Regions from separate parts of the Homo sapiens genome. Here regions 2 and 3 are each reported to be linked to region 1. Evidence: microRNA targets listed by miRTarBase, many of them from high-throughput screens and not tested one by one. Region 1 holds a microRNA gene; each other region holds the end of a gene's coding sequence.
What was found. The annotated mature microRNA hsa-miR-3692-3p reads GUUCCACACUGACACUGCAGAAGU and lies in region 1 at 2,140-2,163, shown strand. An mRNA with a match to its seed (bases 2 to 7 or 8) in the 3' UTR can be bound and repressed. Matches are read on the target gene's strand: a 7mer-m8 pairs with bases 2 to 8, a 7mer-A1 pairs with bases 2 to 7 and ends in A, and an 8mer does both.

Region 2: the mRNA of CHD4 is a reported target of hsa-miR-3692-3p. Seed matches in the 3' UTR shown: 7mer-A1 at 975-981.
Region 3: the mRNA of MLXIPL is a reported target of hsa-miR-3692-3p. Seed matches in the 3' UTR shown: 7mer-A1 at 2,384-2,390.

Annotation. Positions count from the first base shown.
Region 1 is chr6:157,527,036-157,530,285 of GRCh38, forward strand. It overlaps MIR3692 (microRNA 3692), which reads left to right and starts at 2,097; the gene lies at 2,097-2,165. All of the region lies in intron 1 of ZDHHC14 (zDHHC palmitoyltransferase 14), which reads left to right.
Region 2 is chr12:6,567,899-6,571,148 of GRCh38, reverse strand. CHD4 (chromodomain helicase DNA binding protein 4) reads left to right here. Exons shown (of 40, transcript NM_001273.5): 39 at 117-280; 40 at 456-1,067. The coding sequence ends at 473. It overlaps NOP2 (NOP2 nucleolar protein), which reads left to right and starts at 2,858. Exons shown (of 16, transcript NM_001258308.2): 1 at 2,858-2,942; 2 at 3,227-3,250. The coding sequence starts at 3,231. It overlaps CHD4-AS1 (CHD4 antisense RNA 1), which reads right to left and starts at 2,778. Exons shown (of 3, transcript NR_199067.1): 1 at 1,619-2,778. RefSeq lists enhancers at 552-846, 2,514-2,563, 2,387-3,008.
Region 3 is chr7:73,591,110-73,594,359 of GRCh38, forward strand. MLXIPL (MLX interacting protein like) reads right to left here. Exons shown (of 17, transcript NM_032951.3): 16 at 3,165-3,250; 17 at 2,093-2,874. The coding sequence ends at 2,756. Among named protein-coding and RNA genes, the nearest start is that of TBL2, 14 kb to the left of the region's middle.

The DNA of each region.
Region 1 (3,250 bases):
GAGTAGTAGTTTATAATACTGTTGGGGTCCAGGACCCCTTTGAGAATCTATGGATCCTCCCACACAATGTGAAACCATGGCCGTAGGTAAGGCCAACGTTCTCTTCTATCGCTGCAAGCTGGTGACCCTCAGCTGAGCCACCCTGCAACTGGGTGCCTGAAAGCAGATTACACCAGCCGGGGGGCCATGGCTGCATCAGTGCCCCCATCTCCTACCAGACTTGGGCACCTCCCATCGACTCCAGGAGCTCCCCAGCTCCTGTTTCTACTCTGAAGGAGAGGCTGCATTCTCAGCTCATGTGGCGAACAGGAATAGTTGATATTCCTTTGCTCAACTGACCTGTTTTCCTATTTTCCCACCCAGATTTTCCATTCAAAAATCTCTTCAAAAAAGTGCTTTGCAGAGCTTGCTCTTATAGTCAGACAATATTGAAGTCCTTTCATCTTGCACCATGCAGCCTCAGAGTCTCCACCCAGGGGAGAGTAAGAGTCAAAACCTCAACTGATGGAAACTTCTGGTAGAAAAAGCCTTCCAGAACTGCCCAGAGTAAGCACTACAGTCACGAGGTTTTGCCACAGAGCGTATAGGCTCAGCTAGAGCATTTTCAAGCTGTTTTTCTGTGGCCTTGCTTGGTGGACCTCTGCTTTTTGACCTCAAGTTTCACAAGTGCTTTAAACATGAAGCAGTGTTTTCTTGGCAGCCATGTAACGGTCTCTCAGGAAGTTGTTTCTGGAAATGGAAAGACTGTTCTCAGAACTTGACAGTTCTTTAGGGCTCCAGTTATTCTGAATGTTGAAGCCAACTGGACAATGTATGACGCAAGCCTAAGAGGGATAGGGATGTAGCTGTAGGAGGGGCTTTCTGATCCTTCTCTCTCTCCATTGTATCACTCTGCAGTTTCCCTGTTGATTCTCCAACTTTGCCATCTGCTTGGCAAAATTCAAGAAAGGTGGCACTTATTTAATTGATTGTAGCTTTCATGGCAGTCACACCTTCCAAGCCTTCCATCAGGCCAGCCAGGCATGATTTCCTTTGTTTCAGTCCCTCTTGGTGTTCTCTAATTAAATATGCTTTTTCCAGATGTTTCTCCACCGTATTCTTTAAGGTTGTTTCCACCATTTTTCCCTAGATCTAATGTCCATTATTTTGCCTTTTGCCCTTCTCTTTTTAGTAATCAGTTAATAATCGTGTTTGCCATGGGGAAGTCCTCAGGAATACTTCTGTTGTATTTCAAAATGAGCTGAACAGTTTTTTTGTTGTTGTTGTTTTTTAATCTCAGAAGTGTGTGGCTTAAAAGAAAAGTAAAGAAATGATATGAAAGTTTAACCATAGATGAATATACTTGGAAAAGCACAAGTAGATGAAGACTGGGGATGGGAGTGGGCATTAATCAATTAATTTAAAAAGCACGATAGGGTGGGCGCAGTGGCTCACACCTGTAATCCCAGCACTTTGGGAGGCTGAGGCGGGCAGATCACGAGGTCAGGAGATCGAGACCATCCTGGCTAACATGGTGAAACCCTGTCTCTACTAAAAATACAAAGAAATTAGCCAGGCGTGGTGGCAGGTGCCTGTAGTCCCAGCTACTCGGGAGGTTGAGGCAGGAGAATGGCAAAAACCCGGGAGGCGGAGCTTGTAGTGAGCCGAGGTCGCACCACTGCACTCCAGACTGGGCGACAGAGCAAGACTTCATCTCAAAAAAATAAAATAAAATAAAATAAAATAATTAAAAAGCACAATTAGATGAAGACTGGGGGTGAGAGTGGGCATTAATTAATTAATTAAAAAAGCACAATTAGATGAAGACTGGGGGTGGGAGTGGGCATTAATTAATTAATTTAAAAAGCACAATTAGATGAAGACTGGGGGTGGGAGTGGGCATTAATTAATTAATTATAAAAGCATAATTAGATGAAGACTGGGGGTGGGAGTGGGCATTAATTCCTCAACAGCACATGGTATTTTTCAGGTTTCTCCCAATGAGTTCAAAGAGTTTCATTGAAAGTATATCCTTGTAGTTGCTAGTGTCTAGGAGACACACTCAGACTTCCAGTTTTACTCAGCACCTACCACCTGTACTCTTCTGAGGTTCTTTGCCATTCCTGCTGGTCAGGAGTGGATACTGGAGCAATAGATACAGTTCCACACTGACACTGCAGAAGTGGAGATCTCTGGAGTCTCTGCAACCCCACCCTCTCTTCACAGGGAGCAAGTTACTTCTTGAGTATAACCTGGGAATTTTAGAAAGTTTATCTTTTTTCATAAATGAAAGTTTATGTTTTAGCATTGTACTGGTCAGAATCCTCCAGTATTTAAGCAAAACTAACCAGTACGGTCTTTGTTTAGTATACATGTATTTTGCAATAACAGGAGCAGTCATCACCATTTAGTGTCAAGCTTGATTGACAGGGCCCCTGGGAATCTGTGGTTTCTGTTGTGTAGAAACCACAGAGCTTGTTATTCTTCAACTGGAATTGGGAAGCGGAGCCCAAGAGAAATGTTCTTGACCTTCAGTCACTAAGGCGTTACTACCAGACTGCTGGCAATCCATCAATGAGCGACTTTGTCACCCAAGACTCCGAGCTTGTCTTCTCCCCAGACTGGACAAGGCACCTTCACGCAGAATAGTTTCAGGTTTCACTGTGTTCTTAATTACATTTAATGAGGATCATTGAGATCCTTATAAAAAGGTGAAAACAGGTACAGCTGTTATTGTATTCCACTAAGAAAATGTGTAGAGTGCAAAACAGAAGTGTAGGCCTCATTGTGGTACAATTGAGAGACCATGCCTTGGGCCCATGGGCTTTGATGGCGGCCACATCTGATTGACTTCTGGTTATGAAACTTATTAGCTAAACCAGGCTCAAAGTAATGAACCTCTTATAAGTCTTATCAGTCAAATTAATGAACCTTAGTTTCCTCATCTGTGAGATGGTCTCAGTAATACCAATGTCATAGACAATTAGCTGTGTACATTTCTGTAGACATTATATGAAATGTTATATGTGAAACTGCCTGCAATATAGGTACTCAATCAAAAAAATGTGAATTTTCATTTGCTCCCTGCAGTCTTACTATCTGGCTGCCTGTTACTTTGAAAACCATGTGTATGAAACAGTAACAGGCTACCTAAAAAGAAAAAAAGAAAAAAGAAAATGATGTGGGACCACATCTGTGTGTCTAGCAGGCATGGACCTTCCCTCTGGATCTGTTTGTTCTGACCTTGTCTTCTAATTGAGCTGGATAATTA
Region 2 (3,250 bases), not on the chromosome of region 1:
AGACAATACATCACAGTTACTTGGTCACTGAGAAGTGATGGGGGGCTGGTCCACTAGGGTAGAGGGAGCTCAGTCTGGGCCACCACAGCTCACCACCTCTTTTTCTCCCTATGCAGTTCTGAAACAGCTGGAAGAACTGCTGAGTGACATGAAAGCTGATGTGACTCGACTCCCAGCTACCATTGCCCGAATTCCCCCAGTTGCTGTGAGGTTACAGATGTCAGAGCGTAACATTCTCAGCCGCCTGGCAAACCGGGCACCCGAACCTACCCCACAGCAGGTAGGACCATTTTCTTCTTGACACCACCTCTTCCTGCAGAACCATTCTGGAGCTTGTAACTTTGCTGTATGTCCCTAGCTTTACATACTGGGTGGGTGGCCTATCAGTGAATTCCCTTGAGATTGGGTGGATTCCTATCATCTGGAATTCTGACTCCTCGGGTCTCCTTCTCTAGGTAGCCCAGCAGCAGTGAAGATGCAGACTGATACCACCTCCACCGCTGAGCAGTGACCTTCCTCACTTTCTCTTGTCCCAGCTTCTCCCCTGGGGGCCTGAGAGACCCTCACCTTCCTTCTGCCCATCTTCCATGTTGTAAAGGAACAGCCCCAGTGCACTGGGGGAGGGGAGGGAGTGAGGGGCAGTGGTGCCCTTCCTGCAGAAGAGACATGCAGCAGTAGCGCTGGCGCCATCTGCAGGAGCTGGCGGGCTGGCCTTCTGGACCCTGGCTTCTCCCCACTGTAACGCCTGTTACACACAAACTGTTGTGGGTTCCTGCCAGGCTTGAAGAAAATGATCTGAATTTTTTCCTCCTTTTGGTTTTATTTTGTTGGTTTATTTTGTGTTTTCTTTTCTCCTTTTTGGGGGGTATTCAGAGTGGGCTGGGCCCCTGGGCGAGACACAGCTACCTCTGTTGGCATCTTTTTAATACCAGGAACCCAGCGGCTCTAGCCACTGAGCGGCTAAATGAAATAAAGTGGAAAAAAAAAAAAAGGAAAAAACCAAAAGCATAAAAAACCACAGCAAATTTCTTGATGAAAATTGAAAATAAAAGTTTCCTTGTATTTTAGTGCTCTGGTTCAGTGTGGGTGTAGGTGCAGGTGGATGAGTGTGTGCGGCAGGAGCCTGGCACCTGTATAGTTGAAAATTAAGGGCTACGTGGTGTCCTGATACCCCACTGAGTAACTGGGTTCTGTGTGTGGGTGCAGTATGTGCCTTGCCAACGTTGACTTCCACCTGTGGAAAATGAGAGGCTGCAAAACTGCGGGCACCGCCGCTTAATGGCTCTGTGACCTTGAGCAAGTTGTTTAACTTTGGTGGGATGCAGATATCTCATGTATACCTCATACGGTTGTCAAGTTAAACCAGTGAAGTACATGGAACGGTTTTAACACCTAACCACTACCTTAATGTTAGTTTCTAGGAAGGCTGAGGGGGGTTTTCTTGCTAAGTTGTGCAAAATTGGGATGCAATTTGTGGAAGAACACAGCCTCAATCCCACACCCCCGGAGGCCCGACCTAACGTCCTCCAACCTTGAAACCCTTGTAGTTCACCCCTTCTCATGTCCCAGACCAGGTCAGCCTTGCAACCCGTTGTTTCCCAACTAATTGTAGACCCACCTGAAAGCGAGTTCCGGCGAAGAGGCCCCCTGCGAATGAGGTGCAGTGCAGCACCTTAATTGAGGGGCTGAGCAGGGGTCAGCATCAAGGAAGGTGCTGGGAGGGCGGGGCACGGTGGCTCACAGCCTGTAATCTCAGCACAAAGGTGGGGGCAGGAGGATCGCTTAAGCCCAGGAGTTCTAGACCAGCCCTGGCAATATAGTGAGACGCCACCCCCTACAACCCGTCTCTATAAAAAGATTTTTAAAAAAGGGGCAAAGAGGAGGAGGTAAGTGGCATGGAATTCCACGGTTTTTTTTGTTTGTTTGTTTTGAGATGGAGTCTCGCTTTGTTGCCAGGCTGGAGTACAGTGGCGCGATCTCAGCTCACTGCAACCTCCCCCTCCCGGGTTCAAGCGATTCTCCTGCCTCAGCCTCCCGAGTAGCTGGGACTACACGCGTGCGCCAGCCACCATGCCCAACTAATTTTTGTATTTTTAATAGAGACAAGGTTGGCCAAGATGGTCTCGGATTTCTTGACCTCGTGATCCGCCCGCCTCGACCTCCCAAAGTGCTGGGATTACAGGCGTGAGCCACCGAGCCCGGCTGGTTTTTTTGTTTTTTTTTTTTGAGGTGGAGTTTCGCTCTTGGTGAGGCTTAAGTGGCACGATCTCGGCTTACTGCAACCTCCGCCTCCCGGGCTCAAGCAATTCTGCCTCAGCCTCTCGAGTAGCTGGGATTATAGGCGCCCGCCACCACGCCCGGCTAATTTTGTATTTTTAGTAGAAGCAGGGTTTCACCATATTGGCCAGGCTGGTCTCGAACTCCTGACCTCAAGTGATCCACCCACCTCAGCCTCCCAAAGTGCTGGGATTACAGGCGTGAGCCACTGCGCCCAGCCTGGAATTCCGTGATCTTGACGCTGGACTAGGGCAGTGGATGCGAGGGAGAGGGCTCCAATGTCGGGCCCTGGTTCGAGGAGAAGGTGCGGCTTTCACCCAACAGAAACCGGCCGTGAGGCTAAAAGCCAACTCCATGAGGGAAGGTCGGTCAAGCTCAATGGTTTCGTCACATTGCTCCCTCCACCCGCCGCGGGTGTAAGCTGCGCGTCTCCTTCGAATTGCCCCCTACTCGCCGCCGCCGGCTCCGCTGGCGTTCCCAGGGCGAGCGTAAGTTCCGGGTGCGGCGGCCGACTAGGCGCAACAGGAAGAGGCGGGGCCGCGAGGCTAGCGCTACCCGTGCGCCTGCGTGGAACGATTCTGTGGCGAGTGCCGGCCGAAAGCTAGGTCCGGATTGCACGTGGAGGGCCGCCCGAAGGGCACTCTCGGACATTAACCCGCATTCTGGTGGGTCTAGAGGAAATTGGGGGACGAAGAGTGGCAGCACTGACCTGGTCTGGGACGTGGGGAGAAGGGTGCGCTACCTGGGTTTCAGGTGGGAGGGCGTTCGGTCGGGCCTCCAGGGGGATAGCGGGGGTGCTTGAGTCGCGGGTGCTGAGTCGGGAGTGCTGAGTGAGTTGCGGGTGCTGAGTTGAGGCTGTGCCCTTTCCCACTATAATACGCCAAGCGTGCGTTCTGCCGTTCCCTCCGACACGCGCGACGCCACCTTCTCCCATTTCTGCCTGCCACAGTACCATGGGGCGCAAGTTGGACCC
Region 3 (3,250 bases), not on the chromosome of region 1:
GCCTAGTCCATAGCAGGCACTCAGTAAATATTGGGGCCTCTGAGGCCTTCTACCCCAGCCCCATCTGAAGGATCAGTTTTTTTATTTTTTGTTTTTATGTTTTTTTGAGATGAAGTCTCACTCTGTCACCCAGGCTGGAGTGGAGTAGCGCAATCTCTGCTCACTGCAACCTCCACCTCCTGGGTTCAAGGGATTCTCCTGCCTCAGCCTCCCGAGTAGCTGGGTTACAGGCACCTGCCACCATGCCCGGCTAATTTTTTTTGTATTTTTAGTAGAGACGGGATTTCACCAAGTTGGCCAGGCTGGTCCGGAACTCCTGACCTCAGGTGATCTACCCGCCTCGGCCTCCCAAAGTGTTGGGTGGCGTGAGCAACCGCACAGGCCGCTGTCAGTTTTTTCTAAGACATCCCAACTAAGTGGCCATCCACTCTCTGCATGCATACCTCTCATAGCGGGGAGGTCACTACCCTCCATACCTGCCCCGCCAAGGGAGCACATTCTCCTTCTGGGTGGTTCCAGTGGATGCCCTGTCGGTTCCACTCCTTGGTCCCAGCTCTGCCTTCTTCCAACTCTGAAGGTAGCGAGCCTCTCCAAACTGTCTCCTGGCCATGGAGGGAGGAGCTCCAGGAAGCAAATCTATCACCTCTCACCTGGATGACTGCAACTGTCCTCTAACTGGTCTCCCTGCATCCACCTAGTCTCAACTCAGCACCCAGGGGATTCCTGTAAAAAAGTTACATCTGGCCAGACGCCATGGCTCATGCCTGTAATCCTGGCACTTTGGGAGGCCAAGGCGGGAGCATTGCTTGAACCCAAAAGTTCAAGACCAGCCTGAGTAGCTGGGATTACAGGCGTGTGTCAGCACATGTGGCTAATTTTTGTATTTTTAGTAAAGACCGGGTTTTGCCATATTAGCCAGGCTGGTCTCGAACTCCTGACCTTGTGATCCGCCTGCCTCGGCCTCCCAAAGTGCTGGGATTACAGGCGTGAGCCACCACACCCGGCTGCTGACTCTATTCTTATAAGAAAAATTTTTTTGTCTGGGCGCGGCAGCCTCACACCTGTAATCCCAGCACTTTGGGAGGCTGAGGAGGGCAGATCACAAGGTCGGGAGTTCAAGACCAGCCTGACCAACATGGTGAAACCCCGTCTCTACTAAAAATACAAAAATTAGCTGGGCATGGTGGTGCGCACCTGTAATCCCTGCTACTCAGGAGGCTGAGGCAGGAGAATCGCTTGAACCCGGGAGGCGAAGGTTGCAGTGAGCCGAGATTGCGCCACTGCACTCCAGCCTGGGCAACAGAGCGAGACTCTGTCTCAAAAAAAAAAAAATTTTTTTTTTTAAAGTTACATCTGGCAGGGCGCGGTGGCTCACGCCTGTAATCCCAGCACTTTGGGAGGCTGAGGTGGGTGGATCACAATCGTGGTCAGGAGATCGAGACCATCCTGGCTAACACGGTGAAACCCCGTCTCTACTAAAAATACAAAAAAAAAAAAAATCAGCTGGACGTGGTGGCGGGTGCCTGTAGTCCCAGCTACTTGGGAGGCTGAAGCAGGAGAATGGCATGAACCCAGGAGGCAGAGCTTGCAGTGAGCCGAGATCGGGCCACTGCACTCCAGCCTGGGTGACAGTGCGAGACTCCGTCTCAAAAAAAAAAAGTTACATCCGATTTTCTTTTATTTATTTTTCTCTTTTTTATTACTGAGATGAGGTCTATGATCCTCCCGCCTTGGCCTCCCAAAGTGCTGGGATTACTGGTGTGAGCCACTGTGCCCAGCCTTTTTTGTTGTTGTTATTTGAGACAGGGTCTCACTCTGTTGCCCACTCTACAGTGCAGTGGTGCTATCATAGCTCACTGCAGCCTCGAACTCCTGGGCTCAAGCGATCCTCCTGCCTCAGCCTCCTGAGTAGCTGGGACTACAGGCGCTCGCCACCACTACATCTGATCTTGTCCCACCTCCACTCAAAGCCCTCCAGCTGCTTCCAGCTCAGAGTAAATGCCCAGGCCCTCTGCAAAGCCACTTCCCACTGCCAACAGGCTCTCTCTCCATCCCAGTGTGAGACACTGACCAGCACACCAACAAACCAGCAGACAGTTTTTGCTTTTATTGGTCAAGAATTCTTTACAAAACCCACACACACACATCCACACACACACACACACATGATGCCTGCCCTGCTGTGGTCACTCTGGCCCTGGTGTCTCCTGGGATCAGGCCCTCCTGGCCTCTCCCAGGGGAAACCATCCTGCAGCCCCTCTGGGTCAGCAGTGAAGGAGCAGAGAGAGGGAACCTCCTTTTCTGCTTCTCTGCTCAGGAACAGAGGTCTGTGCCCCACCTGTCGGGGAGCAAGTGGAGGTGACAGAGAAACAGCATCCTCCTCTTTCCACCGTTGAGCCCCCGGAGTTGCCAGCCTAGGCCCCCAATGTCACAGCTGCCAAGGCCTGGGGGTCATCTGCTGATTGAACCTTCCCCATCCCCATTTTGCAGATTGAAACACAGCGGTCCAAAGACAGCGGACGAGTCACCCAAGGTCACGGTGCTGGAGCACAGTGGCAGAGCAGGGACGGGGACTCTGCTCTTCTTGACCTCCAGGAGGTGGCAAGTGTGAAACCTGGACCCTGCTCCACCCCCCAGGGAAGGGCAGAGCCAGGGCCTGGGGCAGGAAGGGAGTGCCCAGAGATGATCCCTGGAGCCCGTGCCCAGGGAAAGCAGCCCCCAGGGCAGCTGAGTGAGCAGCAGGGTCTGGCCAGGACTATAAAGGTTTGCCAAGGGTGCCCTCTGTGACTGCCCGTGTGGCTTGCTCAGGGATGCGGCCCGGGTCGGTCAGGATACTGGTAGATGTGCCCAGCTGGCGTAGGGAGTTCAGGACAGCTGGGTGGGAGACAGAGAGAGAGAGACAGACACTTCCTGGGGTCAGGGCCCTACCCTTGGATGTGGAACCAAAGGGATAGGGGGAGGTATTAGTTGGCAAGACTGTCACCCCCTCCTAGAACCTCTGTCTACAGGCGTCTGGTGGCCAGAGGACCATCTGGGGGATGCGGGGTGGCCACAACCCTAGGCTGTGTTGATGGCAAGCTGGATGTGGGATCTAAGCAGGGTGGAATGCTCCCTCCACCCCCGAGGCTGGGTCCCTCTAGCAGGCAGGGAGATGGCTCACGTACTTGGCCGGAGAGCGGGCAGAGAGCAGTACTGGTCCAGCCAGGCCAGTGAGGTCTGGCGGAGGGTGTGCACACTTGCCGTGGACACC